Linked DNA regions of Homo sapiens: region 2 is linked to region 1. The links come from fine-mapping of genetic effects on gene expression. A gene starts in region 1. The other region holds a variant in brackets. All regions are shown on one strand. Distances are between the middles of the regions. Region 1 holds the start of LAMP2 (lysosomal associated membrane protein 2). Region 2 overlaps LAMP2 (lysosomal associated membrane protein 2).

Region 1 (10,577 bases):
GAAAAAGGAGACTAAATGAGTCTAGTTTACCACCATATCCCTAGTGCCCACCAATGAATATCTTCAACAAAAATTCACTACGGGTTAACCATGTACCAGACCCTATGCTAGGTAGGCAATGGGAAGTAACAGTACATAAGATCGTCTCTGCTCTTAGAGACTGCTACCATAGGAGAGACTTGACTAAAACTAGGGGGAAACAAAAAAGCGTGGAAAATAGGCTAGTAACCTAAGATTTTGCAAATGATAAGATTTATTCCTATTTCCCCAGATGGTCACATGGCTGGCCTCCTGCCAACACCCAGGTCTCTGCCCAAATGTCACCCGATAACGGAAGGCCCTCTGACCACATAATATAAAGAAGGATCATCCACCATCACCCATTCCTATCATCTACTCATTCTCCTTTCTCATTACCTGTGTAATTTTCTTCATAGTGTTTTTGTTTTGTTTTGTTTTGAGACAGAGTTTTGCTCTTGTCCCCCAGGCTGGAGGACAGTGGCATGATCTCGGCTCACTGCAACTTCCACCTCCTGGATTCAAGCAATTCTCCTGCCTCAGCCTCCCGAGTAGCTGGGACTACAGGTGCTGGCCACCATGCCCTTGTATTTTTAGTAGAGATGGGGTTTCACCATGTTGGCTAGGCTGGTCTCGAACTCCTGACCTCAGGTGATTTGCCCACCTTGACCTCCCAAAGTGCTGGGATTACAGGCGTGAGCCACCATGCCCGGCCTCTTCATAGTGTTTATCACTATCTGACATTATATTATTTATCTGTTGAGCTTTCTTCTCCCATTAAAATGTAAGCTCCATGAGAGCAGGAACCTCATCTGTCTTATCCATTCCTCTGTCCCTTTCACCTAATATAGTGGCTGGGACACAATAGGCATTCAGTAAACGTGTGGAAGGGAGAGGCTCCTACCAGTAACATACACTAAGAATATTTCTGTGAGGTTTTTCCCACCCAGAAAAGCCTCAAACCTAAAAAAAAAAAATTCTGAACCCTAAAAAAACAAACAAACAAACCAAAAAACAGAAGTCAAGCTAGTTATAAGAATCAATAACCACAGAAGAATCCTGAAATCTATGATATCACAAAAGGACCATAATTAGGCAATTATATAAAGAAAGGATTTTCACCCACTATCCACTTTATAACACCTCTAAATCATATAGCTTCTCTTCGGAAAGTTGTCTGGTCAGTTACAATTCATCCAAATAAACACCAGCATAATTTAATCTCTATGAAAAAGACCAATATATAGCCTCTAAGAATCCTTTTCTGTACTTATTCTAAAGCTGCTGTTTTTAAAAGGTTATGGGTGAAGCTGGGATAGAGTTATAAAGTTACAAAGTCAAACTGGCACAGCTAGAGCACTAATGCTAATAAGACTATAAATTTAGGACAGGTCCTCCTTCATTGGCACTCCGTACAGTACCCAGGCACAGTTCTAGCTACATAGTAGGTACTTTACAAATATTTATTGATTTAGCTACATATTAGGTACTTTACAAATATTTATTAAGTTTTCAAAAACCTATTATTGGTATCCATTTTGATATAGAAAAGTAACTTGTGCAAAACCCACCAAGCAACTGCTAAATTCTTGACAGAAAAAGCTATATGGGAGGACTTTGGGCTCCACACTGAACCAAGAGCCATCAGAAAATGCAGCTGTATAGAAAAATGGTTTCTATTTCATCCTGGAACCTCTTAAAAATCAGATCTAGGTACATTATTAATATTTACTTTTCCAAATCCTGCTCTGAACTTGGAGGCGGAGGGAATCAATCTTGGAAATTTTCCAAGAGGAAGAATCTAGTTAGTCCTGATCAATAAATGGCAAACTAGCAGATGAGCTGATGGGTTCTTTTATGTGCTTCTTTTTGCATGTTTATTTTCTGCAGTGAGTAAGCATTGCTTTTGTAAAAACAAAACAAAAAAGCTTTCATTAAAAAACAAAAAAAAATTTAATGACATGAAAGCCAACAAGTAGGACAACTATTATTTTTTTCACTTTCCCAAAACAATAACAGTGTTGTATTTGTGCACAGATTCAATTGGCAGGGAACTACTGATTAACAGATGCCTTGGTCAGATGTGTTCTAGTCACTGATAAGGTACTTTCCATTGTAAACAATCCTTTCTTAGGGTCAGTTGGCCCTCAGTAAGTGCTCCAAGGTACAGTTAAGGCTTCCAATTAAGTATTCAAGCAAAGCCTGCCTCAAGGCCGCCTTTCAGAAGTGCTACAGAAGAGTTTCCTGCGCGCTGTGAACAGTTGGACTACATCAGGGATTCCCAAAGTTTTGGTGTCAGGACCCCTTTACTTTCTTATCCACTGAGGACTTCACAGAGGTTTATGTGAGTCATATGTATTGGTATTTACAGTATTAGAAATTAAAACTGAGAAATGAATAAAATATAAGAACATCAGAGTGGTGAGGTCATCACATGTTACGTAGCCACTGGAAAACTCTGCTGTACACTGGTGAGAGGATGAGAGTGAAAAGGACAAAGGACAAATAACTTCTTTTTTTTTTTTTTTTTTTGAGACAGAGTTTCGCTCATGTTGCCCAGGCTGGAATGCAGTGGCGCAATCTTGGCTCACCGCAACCTCCGCCTCCTGGGTTCAAGCGATTCTCCTGCCTCGGCCTCCCAAGTAGCTGGGATTACAGGCATGTGCCACGACACCGGCTAATTTTTCTATTTTTAGTAGAGACTGGGTTTCACCATGTTGGTCAGGCTGGTCTTGAACTCCTGATCTCAGGTGATCCGCCCGCCTCAGCCTCCCAAAGTGCTGGGATTACAGGCGTGAGCCACTGTGCCCAGCAGAAAAGGACAAATACCTTCTTAACCTTATTCCGAAGTTTTGATTTCACAGACGCATGAAAAGGTCCTCGAGAGTCACTGAATTAGATAATCAAGAACCCTTCCAATACTATGGTTTTCGAGCAGGATTTATCAATGTTGGCACCATTGACATTTTCAGGGAGATGATTCTTTGTTGTCAGGGGCTGCCCTGTGCTTAGTTAGGATGTTTAGCAGCATCCTTGGCCTCTACCCACTAGATGCTAAAAGCAATCCCCCAGTTGTTACAACCAAAAATGTCTCCAGATGTTGCCAAATGTCCCCTGGTTGAGAATCACTATTCCAGGGTGTTGATTTCATTCTACTGAAATGTGAATTACAAAATGTATACCTCTCACTGCTTTCTCAGACCCCTAATATGTCTATTTCTTCCCCACTCCCATCTGGGTCTGTTCTTTATGTTATTTTATTAAGTCACAAATAGCAAGAGCAGGTGGGTAGCAACAAGCACAGCATGAATCAAAGTCAGGAAGAGACACTTTAGTCAAAGTTCACTTTTAGGCATTAAAGTTGTTAGCGACCCACTGCCTATTAGGGCACAACACAATCAGCGAACATTCACCCAGCCATTTATTTATTGATTTATTTATTTTTATTTTTTGAGACAGAGTTTCACTCTTGTCGCCCAGGCTGGAGTGCAATGGCGCAATCTTGGCTCACTGCAACCTCCGCCTTCTGGGTTCAAGCGATTCTCCTGCCTCAGCCGCCCAAGCAGCTGGGATTACAGGCATGTGCCACGACGCCCGGCTAATTTTTGTATTTTTAGTAGAGACGGGGTTTCACCATGTTGGCCAGGCTGGTCTTGAATTCCTGACCTCAGGTGATACACCCACCTCGGCCTCCCAAAGTGCTGGGATTACAGGCATGAGCCACCACGCCCGGCCCCATCCAGCCATTCTTAGGCCCTGGTAACAACCCAATCCTTAGCAAGTTTGTCTACCTGCTCCCTGCACCCCCAAAATATGAGGTAATAGGCTAGCTGTGTGATGGGGAAGAAAGAAAAGAAGAAACTCTGAAGGCAAAGAGGTAGTCTACCAAACTCAAATACTCCACCCCCAAAACCTCACATCTGGGAGGCCCTCCTAACTGAAACGTCTGGGGATTTTTTTGTCAGCGTCTGGCTGGGAGGAAGTAGCAAAACTGGGAGAAAATCGACATCCTCAATACCTCCAAGTCAGATGTGCACTCCCCATCAAAGTTCCCCCTGAACCCCTTAGTCTCCAGAGGTTGGGTCCAAGTTTTCTTTCCTGGAAATTGCCCCAGCTACCTTAGGTTCCTTCGCCCTTAAAACTATGACTACCAAACTCAAACCCAGCATCACTCCTAATCTCTTGAATCATCCTTTCTTCACAGTCTCAAATTCCAACCTTCAAAATGCCCAACCCTGTCACTGCCCCTGCCCCTCAGGCTCTACTGTCCTATCTGTCCCATCTGTCCCCCACCCACACACTTCTCCCAAGCTACTCCAGGCAGGCATGGTCTTCTCTCTTAATTTCCTATCTCACCCCATAGTTTTTCCACCATCTTCAAAACTCTTCCCTGATCTCAGCAAACCAAGACTCTCCTAATTGTCTCTGGCGCCCAAAATCTGCATGTACCACCCTCCTACGCTCACTCCTCAGTGTTTTCCCCAAGTTACTCTTTCCACGCTGACCCTCTCCACGCTTCACTCCTCCCAGCCTACTCCCTCGGCGTCCACCCCCCGTTACCGGCCCCTTCTTACTCTCCTGGGCCCTTCTTCCCCGCCATCCGTCGGTCAGGCCTTCTCTAGGTCACCGCTTGCCTCCCCGGGCCAACCGCCGCCGCCCAGTGTTAGCTGCTGAGCCTCTCAACCCCCTCCCCCTCGGACCAGTCTTTCAGGTTGTAGCTTTGAACTGGTGCCCCGGGCCCAGGCGGACAGACTAATCGGGAGGGCCCGACAACTCACCCAGGACTAGGCAGACCAGAACGAGCCCTGAGCCCGGAACCGGGAAGAGGCGGAAGCACACCATGACCCCGCAGAGCAGGCGGCGACGGCGGCGACGGCGGCGGTACAACAACAGCTGCAACACCAGGGAAAAGGCTCGCTGGACCTGGGTCAAGAGCACTGATGACCACCGACCACAGCCTTGCAAAAGCCAGGAATCGGCGCTTCAGTGCGAGTCATAAGACTAGGGGCGGGGCTCTTTCTTGCTTACAGCCAATCTCCGCGCTTGAAAGCGGCGAGAGGGGTGGTGATGTAGCGGCCGGTGGGCGGGGCGACCACGCCCTGGCTTTTTGGTTCACAGCCCTTCCTATGCTCCTGAGAGATATGCGCGGACGGCATTTTCTTTTTCTTTTTCTTTCTTTTTTTTTTTTTTTTTTAATTTTACTTTAAGTTCTGGGATACATGTGCAGAATGTGCAGCTTTGTTACATAGGTATACATGTGCCATGGTGGTTTACTGCACCTATCAACCCGTCATCTAGGTTTTAAGCCCCACATGCATTAGGTATTTCTCCTAATGCTCTCCCTCCCCTTGGCCCCCACCCCTTGACAGGCCCCCGTGTGTGTTGTTCCCCTCCCTGTGTCCATGTGTTCTCATTGTTCAACTCCCACTTATGAGTGAGAACATGCAGTGTTTTGTTTTCTGTTCCTGTGTTAGTTTGCTAAGGATGATGGCTTCCAGCTTCATCCATGTCCCTGCAAAGGACATGATCTCATTTTTTTATGGCTGCATAGTATTCCATGGCATATATGTGCCACGTTTTCTTTATCTAGTCTATCATTGATGGGCATTTGGGTTGGTTCCAAGTCTTTGCTATTGTAAATAGTGCTGCAATAAACATACGTGTGCATGCGTCAAATGGTATTTCTGGTTCTAGATTTTTGAGGAATCGCCACACTGTCTGCCACAATAGTTGAACTAATTTACACTCCCACCAACAGTGTAAAAGCATTCCTATTTTTCCTCAGCCTCGCCAGCATCTATTGTTTCCTGATTTTTTAATAATCACCATTCTGACTGGCGTGAGATGGTATCTCATTGTGGTTTTGATTTGCCTTTCTCTAATGATCAGTGATAATGAGCTTTTTTTCATGTTTGTTGCTGCATAAATGTCTTTTTTTGAGAAGTGTCTGGTCATATCCTTTGCCCACTTTTTGATGGGGTTGTTTTTTTCTTGTAAATTTGTTTAAGGTCCTTGTAGATTCTGGATATTAGACCTTTGTCAGATGGGTAGATTGCAAAAATTTTCTCCCATTCTGCAGGTTGCCTGTTCACGCTAATGCTAATTTCTTTTGCTGTGCAGAAGTTCTTTTAATTAGATCCCATTTGTCAATTTTGACTTTTGTTGCGATTGCTTTTGGTGTTTTAGCCATGAGGTCTTTGCCCATGCCTATGGCGGACGGTATTTTCTAAGGCTAAGGAGAGAGGAGGAACTTTTGAGGGCCGTAGATAGTAGACTATTTCCGTTTTGGCTCCTTGACAAAGAAGAGAAAAATTTTGCGGGCACAAAAACGGTTGCTAGGCATCTCAAACGTAATACATACAAAAATAATACATGCTTATTCTCCAAACACTGTTGTTACCTATGCAGTTCATGCTGTGAGATGGACGAGGGAACCTAGGGGGTAGTATGGAGTCACGGACCATCGGAACAAGACATGATCTTGAAATTCACCTAGTTACAGCACCCTGTTCTCAGGTGGGGGAATTGAGCTCAGAAACAAGAAGCATCTTTTTTAAACACAGGAAGAAAAAAATGAGAGAAATAAAACAGAAGGATAAAGCGGAAAAATAGAGATCATCTGTATTCCTACTATTAACATTATTATATATATTTACACACATATATACACACACCCACATCTATACTTCCAGATATTTTTCCTATGTACATACACACAAATATTCTGTAATGAGTTCATACTAAGCATACTGTTTGCTATACTTGATAGATGAACAGACAAAACCTAAAATATTCAACAGATGAAAGCATTTAAAAATCTTGAGTTGGAATAAAGCACTGATTCTCAAGTGTTAGTTTCCAAAAGAACCATCTGGTTTTGGGTTTTTTTTTTTTAACATACAGATTCCTGTACCTCATTCCCCAGAGATTCTGAAACAGTAGGTCTGTGGCAGTCTTATTAATCACTTCTTTAACAAACACCCCAAGTGATTCTGATTCTGTGGTCCATGGACCACACTTTGAGAAAAACACTGAAAGAGAGCTTCAAAATCATCTAGTCCAGGAGATTTTAATCTGGAGTTTATGTATGAGTTTAGACAGGATGGGAGAGGTGTCGGTGAATCCTCAGAAATTACATGCAACATTTATGTATGTGTATTTTTGTGGGGAAGTTTGTAGTTTTCACTAGTTCTCCAATGGGACCTGTGACTCCTTGCCCTAACCCCTACCCTAATTCAAATATTAAGAAGCACCGATCTGCCCCACTATTGTTTGCTTTAATGTAATTAATTCCTGAAAGTGAGAACATTTGTCAATGAATGTTTACTACCATAGGTGAAACTAATTTGTGAACAAGTGACCCAACACAAGACTAATGAACACTGCATACAGTGTTAGTCATTGCCTTTAGCAAAATGTCTTTTGACTGCCATCAATGAGACTTGGCAGGAGCTATGTCCTGGGCATAGTAGTCTTCAGAGAACCCACAACTGAGTTGAGCCCTCTGAAGATGCCCCACCAATACTTCCTGGACTCTAGCTCTTCTCTTTCAATTGTAAATCGCATAACTTTAATGTTCAGTAAAACCCTAAGCTCTTTCTATAAGAAGAAACAAAAAAAGAACATAGTGGAAAGAACATTGGGTTAGCAGTCAGAGGAGTTGGTTGTGAGACACCACTTACTGGCAGTGTGATCTTAGGCAGGTCACTTCATCTGTTTGAACTTCTATATCTTTATTGGTAAAATGAAATAATGAGACTAGAGCTGTTTCTTGATCCTGGCTGCATGTTGGAATCACTTGTGGAGCTTTAAAAGTGGAAAATTCCCCTTGGTCCCATCCCTTGAGATTCTGATTCAGTTTATCTGAAGTCAGGCCTGGGCATGGTGTTTTTCTCAAAACTCCCCAAAACAATATTGGTGGGCCTCAGATGATCTCTAAGTTGGCATCAGGTTTATAATTCAAGGATTCTATGTGAGTAAATGCTCATTTATTTAAAATTGGCCAGGTGCAGTGGCTCAAACCTGTAATCCCAACACTTTGGGAAGCCAAAGCAGGCAGATTGCCTGAGCTCAGGAGTTTGAGACCAGTCTGACCAACATGGTGAAACCCCATCTCTACAAAAAATTAAAAATTAGCTGGGGGTGGTGGCGTGCACCTGTAGTCCCAGCTACTTGGGGGCTGAGGCAAGAGGATTGTTCAAGTCCAGGAGGTGGAGGCTGCAGTGAGCCATGTTTGCACCACTGCACTCCAGCCTGGGTGACAGAGCAAGACCCTGTCTCTGAAAATATATGTATATATTTATATATAAGGATAGCCAGCCATGGTGGTGCACACCTGTAGTCCCAGATACCAGGGAGGCTGAGATGGGAGGGTCGCTTGAGCCCAGGAGGTTGAGGCTGCAGTGCTCTTTGATGGCGCCACTGCACTCCAGCCTATGCAAATGAGTGAGACCCTGTCTCTAACAATTAAAATAAAATAAAATACTGTCCCAATTTGTCAAATATCTGGTGTAATAAATTGTCGCCCTTTATCTCTTGAAGGTGTCATCAAATTAAAAAAATAAACACAGTGAAATATGAGCAGCCTTACAAGCGAAATCCACCCTCACCCCCATCACAACCTTTTCCTCAGGCAAATACAAATGCTGGCTCCTTGACTGGGACAGGCATCGTCGTGAGACACAACAATGTTTTGAAAGTTGTAGATACATGCTGGGTATTTTGTCAGCATAAATAGGCTAAAAATTCTCAAGTCTTTGTTTGCACTGAGCTTCCATACTCAGAAATGTTTAATGTTTTCTCCAAAAAACACTGTGAGAAAGATCCCTTTTCTTATACAGTCTCCCATTACCCTGCCCCAGATTGAAGGAGCTTTTCCTTGGCTTTCGGTGGTAGATGCAGATGTATACGTGAGACTGGGGTTAGTGTTTGAGGAAATCTGTGAGATCCCCTCCGATCTAAGCTTCACAAAGGTTGACTTGATTGTTGGTACCGCTGTATCTAGGGTGCTTTTATGTGCGCTCCTGAATATACCTCATACCACCCCAGTGCACAAACTCCTCAGCAGTCCCCCCACACTGTCCCCTACCATCATAGGTAGATTAAGACTCTTTTCAGCACCTTTGAGAGTGCATGACTTTTTGGCCAAAGAGCAGGAAATCATTGGCAAACATTTCCCTACATGTCAACATACTGAATGGTGTAAGAAATGATGACCCTATCAGATTTGGTAAATGATAGACAATGAAATGTGGGGATGAGCAGAGGAAATGAACTTAAAGGTGCAGAAGTTTAGAATGGAAGAATAATAAATAGTTATTAAATAAATGGGCTGGGCACGGTGGCTCATGCCTGTAATCCCAGCACTTTGGGAGGCCAAGAGGGATGGATCACTTGAGATCAGGAGTTCAAGACCAGCCTGGCCAACATGGCGAAACCCCATCTCTAGCAAAAAGTACAAAAATTAGCTGGGTGTGGTGGCACATGCCTTTAAACCCAGCTACTCGGGAGGCTGAGGTTCAAAAATTGCTTGAACCAGGGAGGCGAAGTTTGCAGTGAGCCAAGATCGCGCCACTGCCCTCCAGCCTCGGTGACAAAGTGGGACCCTGTCTCAAAAAATAATAATAATAAATAATAAAAATAAATAAATGAGTGCCCCTGAGGTATTGGTGTCATCTATTTGCCACCAAAAATCTTTACTTTTTAAATTTGCATTATCTTTTTATCTGCCCCATTTTTCCTTTCCCTACTCATCCTTTTTTTAGTTTCTCCTACCCTCCCTCTTTTTCCTTTCTCCTTCTGGCATGTCCCTTTTTTCTGGATAATACCTTTAATATCTACTGTCTGGATGACAGTATGGTCATCGCTCAACCCCACAGCGAGGTCACAGTGGGCTCAAGGGGCTGCCAACTCTTCAGCCAGAGTTCTCTGGATAAATGGAAACATGCCATTTTGAGTTGTTTGTTCTCCTGGCCAGTAGTATTCTCAACCTCCCCTGCCAAAAGATCTGATCCAATCTGCTAAAACAAAATGGTTTATGCATCACAACCACTGGAGGGCTTATTAAAACACAGATTACTAGGCCCCACTGTGAAGTTCAACAGCTCCGGGATAGGACACAAGAATCTGCATTTCTAGCAACTTCCCTAGTGATCTGATGCTGCTGGTCTGGAGACCACATTCTGAGTAATGAGATCTCAAACTCTCAGCAGGGGCTCTCTGTCCTCTGGGGAATGGGGTTAAGAGATGAAGGAGGGCTGGGCATGGTGGCTTATGCCTGTAATCCTAGCACTTTGGGAGGCCAAGGAGGGTGGATCACCTGAGGTCAGGAGTTCAAGACCAGCCTGGCCAACATGGCGAAACCCTGTCTCTACTAAAAAAAAAAAAAAAATACAAAAATTAGCCTGGCGTGGTGGCAGGTGCCTGTAATCCCAGCTACTCAGGAGGCTGAGGCAGGAGAATTGCTTGAACCCGGGAGGCAGAGGTTGCAGTGAGCCGAGATTGTGCCATTGCACTCCAGCCTGGGAGACAGAGCAAGACTGCGTCTCAAAAAAAAAACA
Region 2 (9,165 bases), 33 kb before region 1:
TTCATTTCAGAAGTTATGGCAGATGGAGGTAGTAAGGTAGGACATATCTTTATCACTAGAGTCCAGGTAACCAATAATATTGTCCTGAGCTGGATTAATGAAGTGCAGAAGAAAAGCAGAAGGCACAGACTGGAGATCAAATTAGAAGGCAAAATTGACCAAACGGATGTAGGGGGTGTACGAGGAGGAGATAATAGAATGGTTTCCAATTCCACACTTGACTGATTATGTAGATGCTGGTGCCATTCTATAAAAGAGGAAGAATATATGCATTTCAGTTTTTTGTAGTTATATGGAACAGGTGGTAAAAAGGATACGTGGAAGAGAGAGATGCTCAGTTTTAGATATGTGAGTTTAAGATATCTGTGTCCTTAGTTGAGCATGGTAGCTTACGCCTGTAGTCCTAGCTACTTGGGAAGCTGAGATGGGAGAACTGTTTGAGCCCAGGAGTTCAAGACCAGCCTGGGCAGCATATCGAGAACCCATCTCAAAAAAAAAAAAAAAATCACTATGTCCTAACCAAGTGGCTATATGAACCTAAGTGGTAGTTAAAACATGGGCAAGAACATTTCTCAGTAAGGGGAAGTAGAATAAAAAGAGGATCAGAGACAAAAACCCTTGGGAACACCAATACCTGTGGGATAGACAATGGAGTAGGAAAAAGATGTAAAAGGGCAGATAGAAAATGGCGCCAGAGAAGCTAAGGATGGAACGTTTCAATTAAGGTGGAAAGACAGCAAATAATAGTAGAAAGCTTTGAAACATGTCCATTGCCTCTAGCAATATGAAGGGTGGGAGATATGAGTAAAATTGCTGCAGGTTTAAGAGGGAATGGGAAGTGATTGGTTAGGACATCAAGAACTTGGGCAGGGTAACAAATACAATACTCATTTTGAGAAGTTTAGAATGATTAAGGCAGGACAAAAGGGAGGTAATTAGAAGGGGGACATAGGGACAAGAAAGGATAGCTTAAGGTTAGAAGAACTTAAATAGGATGAGGGAAACAGCCATTAGCAATTGACAGAAGATGCTGAATGGTACAAGTTCTCCTACAAGTTAAGAGATTGAATTCCAAAAGCGTAAGACATTAAGAACTCAATACATAACAATCTGGGGTCACTTAGTAATGGGAAAAGAGATATAAATGGGCCTTGATGACATAACTGTTTGCCTCAGTTTAACCAGGAAAAGAAAACCTACTCTGAGACTGGAGAGGAGGAAGGAATGCTACAGATGGATACACTTGCAGGAAAGAAGTTAACTGCTATTTCTATTTCCCATTTCCTGTGTCTTGTTGCCCTAGTTCTCTGCCTAGCTTGCAGTCTACCAGGGACTGATAAATCAGATAACTAAGCTTATTAGAATTGTATCAAAGATAGGACAAATAGGCTGCATGGCAATTCTGATTGTGCTTGCATTCAAGAAATGTGCCAAGCTTTCCCCGCCGCCCCCACTAGCCTCTGGGGCAATAACTAGGAACAAAATGCAACCCTGGAGTTTATAAACTTTTCTGACATTGACTTGGGCTGCCAGTTCAATTATTTGTTTTACTTGCTTCTTGGTTCTGTTAAGAATCCAGAGAGCTGAGGCTGCCAGATGTGACCTGTGAATAGATGGTGTTAAGAATCCCCAGTTAGCACCTCCCCTACAATTTCCCAAATTACCACCCAGCCCATAAACTATTAGGTGACATGTACCATAAAGTATTATGCCGTGGGTTTAATATAACTTGGTTTTTTAAAAATTCATTAGTAGATTAATTTCTTATTCTGGCAACAGACTCATAGTTCTCTCTTTCCCAAATTGGGTATTTGACCTAGTACTGAAACGACTTTCATAAATACTGCCAATAAGGCTTTCATGTAAGACAAATATTCTCAGAGTAGCTCAAAAAGGCAATTCCGCTAATACAAAGATCTTTCTAGATACTGTCATTTACTTAAAATGCTCTCAATTAGTATGTGAAATATTAATTTATAATAACTATTGATTGTATGAATTCAACCTTTAAAAATTATTTAGTTAATGGAAAAAATGTTGGTAAAACAGTAACTTTAATGGGATCACATTCTGAAGAAAAGAAAATCTCATCCTATAAGTCATTTTGATCTGATCTACTTGCCTAATGTATACTTAACGCTGTATTGAAAATGCTTCTGGGGAAAAGAGAAGTGTATTTGCAGAAGAATTTAATAGCCACAGAAGCAATAAAGATTTTTAAAGATTAAAAAGTTCCATGGCCACTAAAATTTCAGTAAGAAGTTTCATGTAGATTAAAAATGCTGTTAATCTTCAATTTTCTGCCAGTTCAGACATTTTTCAAACACAATTTTCAACACAAGAACTGGAAAGCTGAGGTATACATTTACAACAAAAACTAATAAAACTTCTCTTAAAAACCAGTTGAGGCCAGGCACAGCGTTTCATGCCTATAATAACAGCAGTTCAGGAGGTCGAGGTAGGCAGATCACTTGAGGTCAGGAATTCGAGACCAGCCTGGCCAACATGGCAAAACCCCATCTCTACTAAAAAAATAAAAAGGTAGCCAGGTGTGGTGGCACTCGTCTGTAATCCCAGCTACTTGGGAGGCTGAGGCATAAGAATTGCTTGAACCTGGGAGGCGGAGGTTGCAGTGAGCTGAGATCACACCACTATACACACCCAAGCCTGGGCAACAGAGCGAGACTCCATCTCAAACAAAACAAAACAAACAAACAAACGAGTCAAAACTTCTTTTTGGAAGGATCCACATTAAGAAGCACATTCTTAGGTGATATTTTGTTATATACATTTTATATCTATAATCAAACTGTGTTAAGTAAATCACATGCATCTGAAAAGATTCGTGAAGCTACTCAATATCATTCATGAATATCTATACCAGTTTCAAATACAAGAAATGGTGATTATTAACGCAGAAAGTTAGCTACCAGGGTAAAAGAAAAGGAGATGGGTGGAAGATGAGCCCAAGACAATTTAACATTATCTACCTAAATAAACAGATGAAATACTATCATCTTAAAAATGTCCAAGTCTTATAAGAATTCCTCCTGAAAAACTGCAGGAAACTTAAGTGGTACATTTTACACTGAACTTATAGTATGTTCTTGATACGTAACAAGTAGCTTATCAGATTCCTTCTAAAATACTAAGATGTATGAAATACTATGATGCATTCCTCTGAAATGCAAATTATCACTCAAAGAAATGAGTAGCAGGATTTTAAAGCCCCCACCCACTGGATGAAGAAATTGAGACACTAGAAGTTAAACAACTTGGCCAAAGACAATGGTAGTTAACTGCAGAGTTTGCAGCCGTGATGACTAACTGGCATTCACATGGCTTAACTGGGTAATTCAGAGAAAAGTTACCAGCTACATTGCTAAGTTTTCTTATGTGATATAGTAAGGTGACTAGGTAACTATCCGTATATGGAAACTGGAAGGCTCAAGTATTTTAGAGTGATCTAAGTAAGAGAGAGACTGCACACAATCCTACGTTGGTTCAGATCAATAGCTCAATATGTATGGCTGCAATGTAAAGCTACTATGTAGAGATATTGAATATCAACCTCAACTTAGGAATTGAGAAAAGTGTACAAAGAGATACTCCGCAGCTTTTATTATGAAATAAATATTCTAGATCACTGGTTCCCTAACTGACTATGCATCAGGTTCAGCAGGGGAGCTTACACACACACACACACACACACACACACACACACACACACACTCTCTCTCTCTCTCTCTGTCTCTCTCTCTCTCTGTCTCCTCATTAGACCTACTACGTTAAATCCTCTAAGGATGCAGCCTGGAATCTATTTTTATAAAACGCTTCCCAGGTTGATCTTATTCTGTAGCCTGCCTAGCATCAATCGAGGCCTATGTATGGGACTATTCTTCCAGATGGTAATATACAGACAGAACATCAGAACATTTTGCAAATAATTCAGTTCTACTTCTAAACATTTCTAAAGTTTTTCCATTTGAAAGAAATTGCCATTATGTAGTATACAAAATCTTGACTTTAACCAACGGGAAAAAAGGTAAGCAAATTGCCTTAAGAAATAAAAGAATCTTTATTGTTTTAGAAGCAATTTTGAGCAAACAGACAGGCAAATATCTAAAGATACCATACATCAACTAGTGGTTTAAACATTTGAAGAAAAAACATGGAAAGTATTTACATGGACCAGTTTCTTTATACAAATGCTAAAACATGAAAAACACCCAAAACCAGATAGAGCGTTACCATCAAGGTATGAATCTAGTAATACAAATAAAACTACAAAAGGTACAAAGAACATGTAGCTATAGGAAATAATAGTGTAAATAGCAGTATATAAACTGGCCCATGTAAAATACAAAAATATTCACTGAAGTCAGGTTTTCTATAAAACAGTGTTTATTAGAGGTATTTTACTATGAATCAGGCATATAATCTGAATGTAGAAACTTTTAGAAATATTAACAGCATTCAGTCAGTGCCATGCACTTGTGCTTCCAATTATTTTTTTAAAGCTGCTTTGTTTTGACTCATGTGAAATAGTTAAGGCCTACATTCTTATACACATTATCCATCTTACAAGGTTAACAATTTTACACTAAAACACAGTTTAAATTAAAAACGATTTTGAAAAATTACATCTATATTTAATCCCTAAGAAGTGTTTTAAGCTGGTAATGCAGCTCGCTGTAGCTCTAAGAGAGGGGTTAGTCAGGAATCTGATCTTGAGCCATAAAGGTTTTCAGGCTAAACAAAGAACAAATTTAAGTGACGGAAAATATTTATAATTCCAATATAACTCAGTTATATTGTTATAAAAATACCCATGCTAGCATGCAACTGCCTATATATGTGTGCATATATATATATATGTCTGTGTGTGTGTATTGATCCATTCAATGTCAATATTTTGGAACCCAGACAATTTTCTCATTTTCTAGTGAATGGGAGGCACATAATCCCACCACAAAAAAAAAAAAAACACGAAAAAACAACCCCACAGGAACCTTCCATATATGGCTGCATATTAACAATTTTAATATTTGCTCAGCCATTCCAACACACACCAAAAAAGTTCTCCTAGAAGCAGCAAGAAATATTTGATGTGTTAACTACCAAGCTGATGTATTTTGCTTTCTCCTATAAACATTAGGTGGTACACGGTAATTTGACAATTGGTACATCTCTCAGACCACAAAACTGAACACAAAGCACGTGAATTAAAAATGATTCTACCATAA[T/C]GAATAATAACAACGAAAGTTTTGATTAGCACAGAACCATTTAAATGTGAAAGCCAAATTAGTGATGTTGTAGCAATCAATGCAAGCTGGAAACAAAGAACAACTTTTTAATGGATTAAGATAAAACCAAGACTTTTTGGTTAGATGCAAGTTTTGTTTGTTTGTTTGTTTTGTTTTGTTTTGTTTTGAGATGGAGTTTCGTTTTTGTCGCCCAGGCTGGAGTGCAATGGTGCGCTCTTGGCTCACCGCAACCTCTGCCTCCCGGGTTCAAGTGATTCTCCTGCCTCAGCCTCCCGAGTAACTGGGATTACAGGCGCCCACCACCACGCCCAGCTAATTTTTTGTATTTCTGATAGAGATGGGGTTTCACCATGTTGGCCAGGCTGGTCTCAAACTCCTGGCCTCAAGTGATCCACCCACTTCGGCCTCCCAAAGTGCTGGGATTACAGGCGTGAGCCGCCACGCCCAGCCTAGATGCAAGTTATTTTATAAGTGTAAGTGCACTTCGTTATCTAGGTTCTAGGACACACTGGCATTTCTTAAGAAAAAGAAAATAATAAAATACATCACTATCAACAAGAAATGTTGGAAGGCTAAAGAGAAATCTGCATTAATTTTAGTACTGCATACAGAGGCCAATTTATGAGCACAAAGTACTAATGCCCTCAATTGGCACTGGCAAGCAATTATCTCTAAAGCACCTAAAAAATGGATTGAAATGCCCAGTTGGAATAGTCTTATATATTGCAATTTAAAAGATTGAAATATCCAGTTTTTTTAAAAAAAAGATTAAACAATAAGATTAATACCTACTCTAAATTTTAAAAAGCTTTTGTATCTTTTGTCATTACAGCCACATAAATACAAATGTATTCAAAAGGCATTAGAAAAGCATTTATTGCTAAGAACATAATAATACCAGCCCCTGTTCAAATCTACTATTATATCTCTCAAAGGTCAAATATGCAGCAATGCCAAAGTAGCTAAGTTAACCTGCAAACAAAAATCACACACACACACACACACACACACACACACACACACACAAAAAGAGCAAAAGGAGCAAGTACAAATCCACGGTAGAACATGTTGTTCCAACTCAACTACCTGCAGGGAAAAAAAATCTCTTTTTCAAAAATTGTTTTTTCTAAACGGTGTATTTTTAGTCTGAATGTCTAAAATGAAAACACTGAAATACTAATTCAAGACAGTAAAATAGAACTTATAATCCAGTGATTTTGCACATCTTTTGCTGTAAAAATAACAGTTTTAAATTCCTTGGTTGGAAAAACCAAAGTCAGGCAACTAATTTGTAGTTGATAGTTTTTTGTTTAAGTTTGAAATCCCCCATACCACCCATTCTAAAGAGCTGGACTGCAACTAAATATACCTTAAGTTGACCAGTATTGCATGTTGGAACTTGTACTTGCTTTTTTCTTTTGTAACAGAGATCACGTATTGATTAGTGTTACAGAGTCTGATATCCAGCATAACTTTTTCTTCTGCCAATTACGTAAGCAATCACTATAACGATAATCAAGCCTGAAAGACCAGCACCAACTATAATTGGGATTAGAATGGTGTCATCATCCAGCGAACACTCTTGGGCTGTAGGTGAGAAAAAGTGTGTAATAAATAATGAGTATAATCACAAAAGAATGTCTCGAAGTCAAAGATGTTGATTTAAAAGTCAGAAATGTTCTTACAAGATCAACTTCAAGTAACTAAGACAGGTATATTTTTATGATAAAGCTATAGAAAATGGAGAACTGTTCTAGAATTAAAATTCTAAGACTTTCTTTGTCCTTTCATTTGTTTATGTGTATATATGCAGATATTCATATATATGAATACATGTATATTCATTTACATCTATAAACACAGCTCATATTGTAATGTGCATATATTATATGCACATTGTATATGTGTGCATATATATAATATATGCACATTATATATGATATATAATGCACACATTATATATATGATATATATTTTATATGTGATATATATGTGTGCATATACATATACATACACACATATATGTTTGTTTATATTCCAAGTCCTTTCCAAAATAGGCATATTACTTTATCAGAAATAAAGGGAGCTAATCTAGCCCACTTTTACATAGCCAGATTAGCCTCTCAGTGGTAGAGTGAATGTCTTTTGGGAAAGTGGAAACAGGATCAGGAAGGTATCATGTGATGAGAATAGCCAGGCTGGCTCTGTCTTTAGGGTCAGGGGTCAGCAAGCTGTAGCCCATGGGCCAGATCTGGTCCAAGAGCTAAAAATGGCCTTTACATTTTTAAATGGTTGAAAAAAATATTTTGTGACACATGAGAGCATATAAAATTCAAATTCCAGTGTCCATAAATAAGGTTTTATTGGAACCCAGCCACAGTCATCTGTTTATGTGTTGCTGTTTTCGTGCTACAATAGCAGGGTCAAATAGTTGTGACAGAGACCATATGGCACCAAAGCCTAAAACACTCACTGTTTGGAACTTTAAAGTTTGCAGATCGTGACTTAGTACATACAATTTTAGTGGCTGCAAAGTCAAGAAAACTGGGACCTCTTACTAATTTGAGCGTGCTTACTGCATTTCTTATCTGGTCAGGGTTGGCAGCCTAAGGGGGCTATTTTTTTCTACTTCTAGAAAGTGGTCTGATCCAGTAAAATCCAATCAACACTCTTCTGCCTTATTGCAATTCTATTTCTTTCCCCATACAGTCAAATATTACCTATGTGTTGTATTTATAGGTACCCACAGCCAAGAACCTAGTTCCACAAATAGATTATACATTCAATATCAGTATTAAATGCTGTATATCTCTTTGGGTGATATTTTTAATTCTATGTACATAAAAACCAAAGTTTCAAAGTAAGAGAAAGAGCACAGCTCATCTCTATTACAGGTGACTAGATAAACAGTCTTGAAGTGATGATACTAATACTGCAAACGATTTTAAACTGTAAACACAAATCTGGACTTAAAATTAGGGGAATAATGAAGGGGAGCCAGATAAAAAGTCCAAAAATAAAGCTACTAAAGGATCAAAATAATTGAAGTACATAAGCAAAACAGACAAAAGGGAAAATGAATTCTTGAAAATATTTTTAAAGTGTAACTAACGTCTTTAATCGCAAGAATGGTAGGGTGGAGAGCCCAATTTATTGTGGCCTAACCAAGTCAGACTAGGTATTCAACACCACTGCAAAAGTAGTCGAATGGCTCACAGTATATTCGCTTTTAAACACAGCTTCCACATTTCCTTCCAAACCATAGAATTAATGGTTGAAAAGGATGTGGATGCCTGGAATAGCTAGCTCTGCTCAACAGAGTTGTGATCCACAAACCCCCAATTTTAGGTAATAGGCTTAAAAGGACAAGTCAATTAAGGAATTTTATGTGCTTTTTTTCTTCATGCAAATTTTAATCTTGTAATGCCAAATATGTCTTTCATATTCGTATGAACACATTATAATGAGCCCTTCAAAAGGTTTCATTAAAAATCTAATAAATACCACCATTATCCCTGAGTGATCTTCAAAAAGCGTCATTCACACTGGCACATGCTTTGAAAACTCTCCAGATCGTTTTGGCTGGTAAAAACATAGTTCATGATATTTGAGGCTTTGCTACCGCTCTTTATCTTTTGTCTTAACAAAATCAGACCAAACTGCTTTCATTCAGGTATGAAAATGTTTCCAGTGAGAAGACGGCCTCAGGAAGCAGATGCAAGATGCTCAAAGCTGCTGCTCCCAAGTGCCATCTTCCCTACAAACTAAAACCCATACCTCAAATAAAGCTCACTTAAAGCTTCTATCAGTTTTAGCTTTAAGAACTTTTTTTGCAAATGATTTTAAGATCACAAAAACATCTCGGTTGAGCAAAATGATGAGCCAAATATAGAGTTGC

What was found.
Region 2: its variant is fine-mapped to the expression of LAMP2 in whole blood (TOPMed, PIP above 0.99).

Annotation. Positions count from the first base shown.
Region 1 is chrX:120,464,310-120,474,886 of GRCh38, forward strand. LAMP2 (lysosomal associated membrane protein 2) reads right to left here and starts at 4,987. Exons shown (of 9, transcript NM_002294.3): 1 at 4,797-4,987. The coding sequence starts at 4,860. RefSeq lists a silencer at 4,925-5,189.
Region 2 is chrX:120,432,440-120,441,604 of GRCh38, forward strand. The region is part of intron 8 of LAMP2 (lysosomal associated membrane protein 2); the gene reads right to left. Among named protein-coding and RNA genes, the nearest start is that of LAMP2, 32 kb to the right of the region's middle. The variant T/C (reference allele first, on the strand shown) is at 5,247.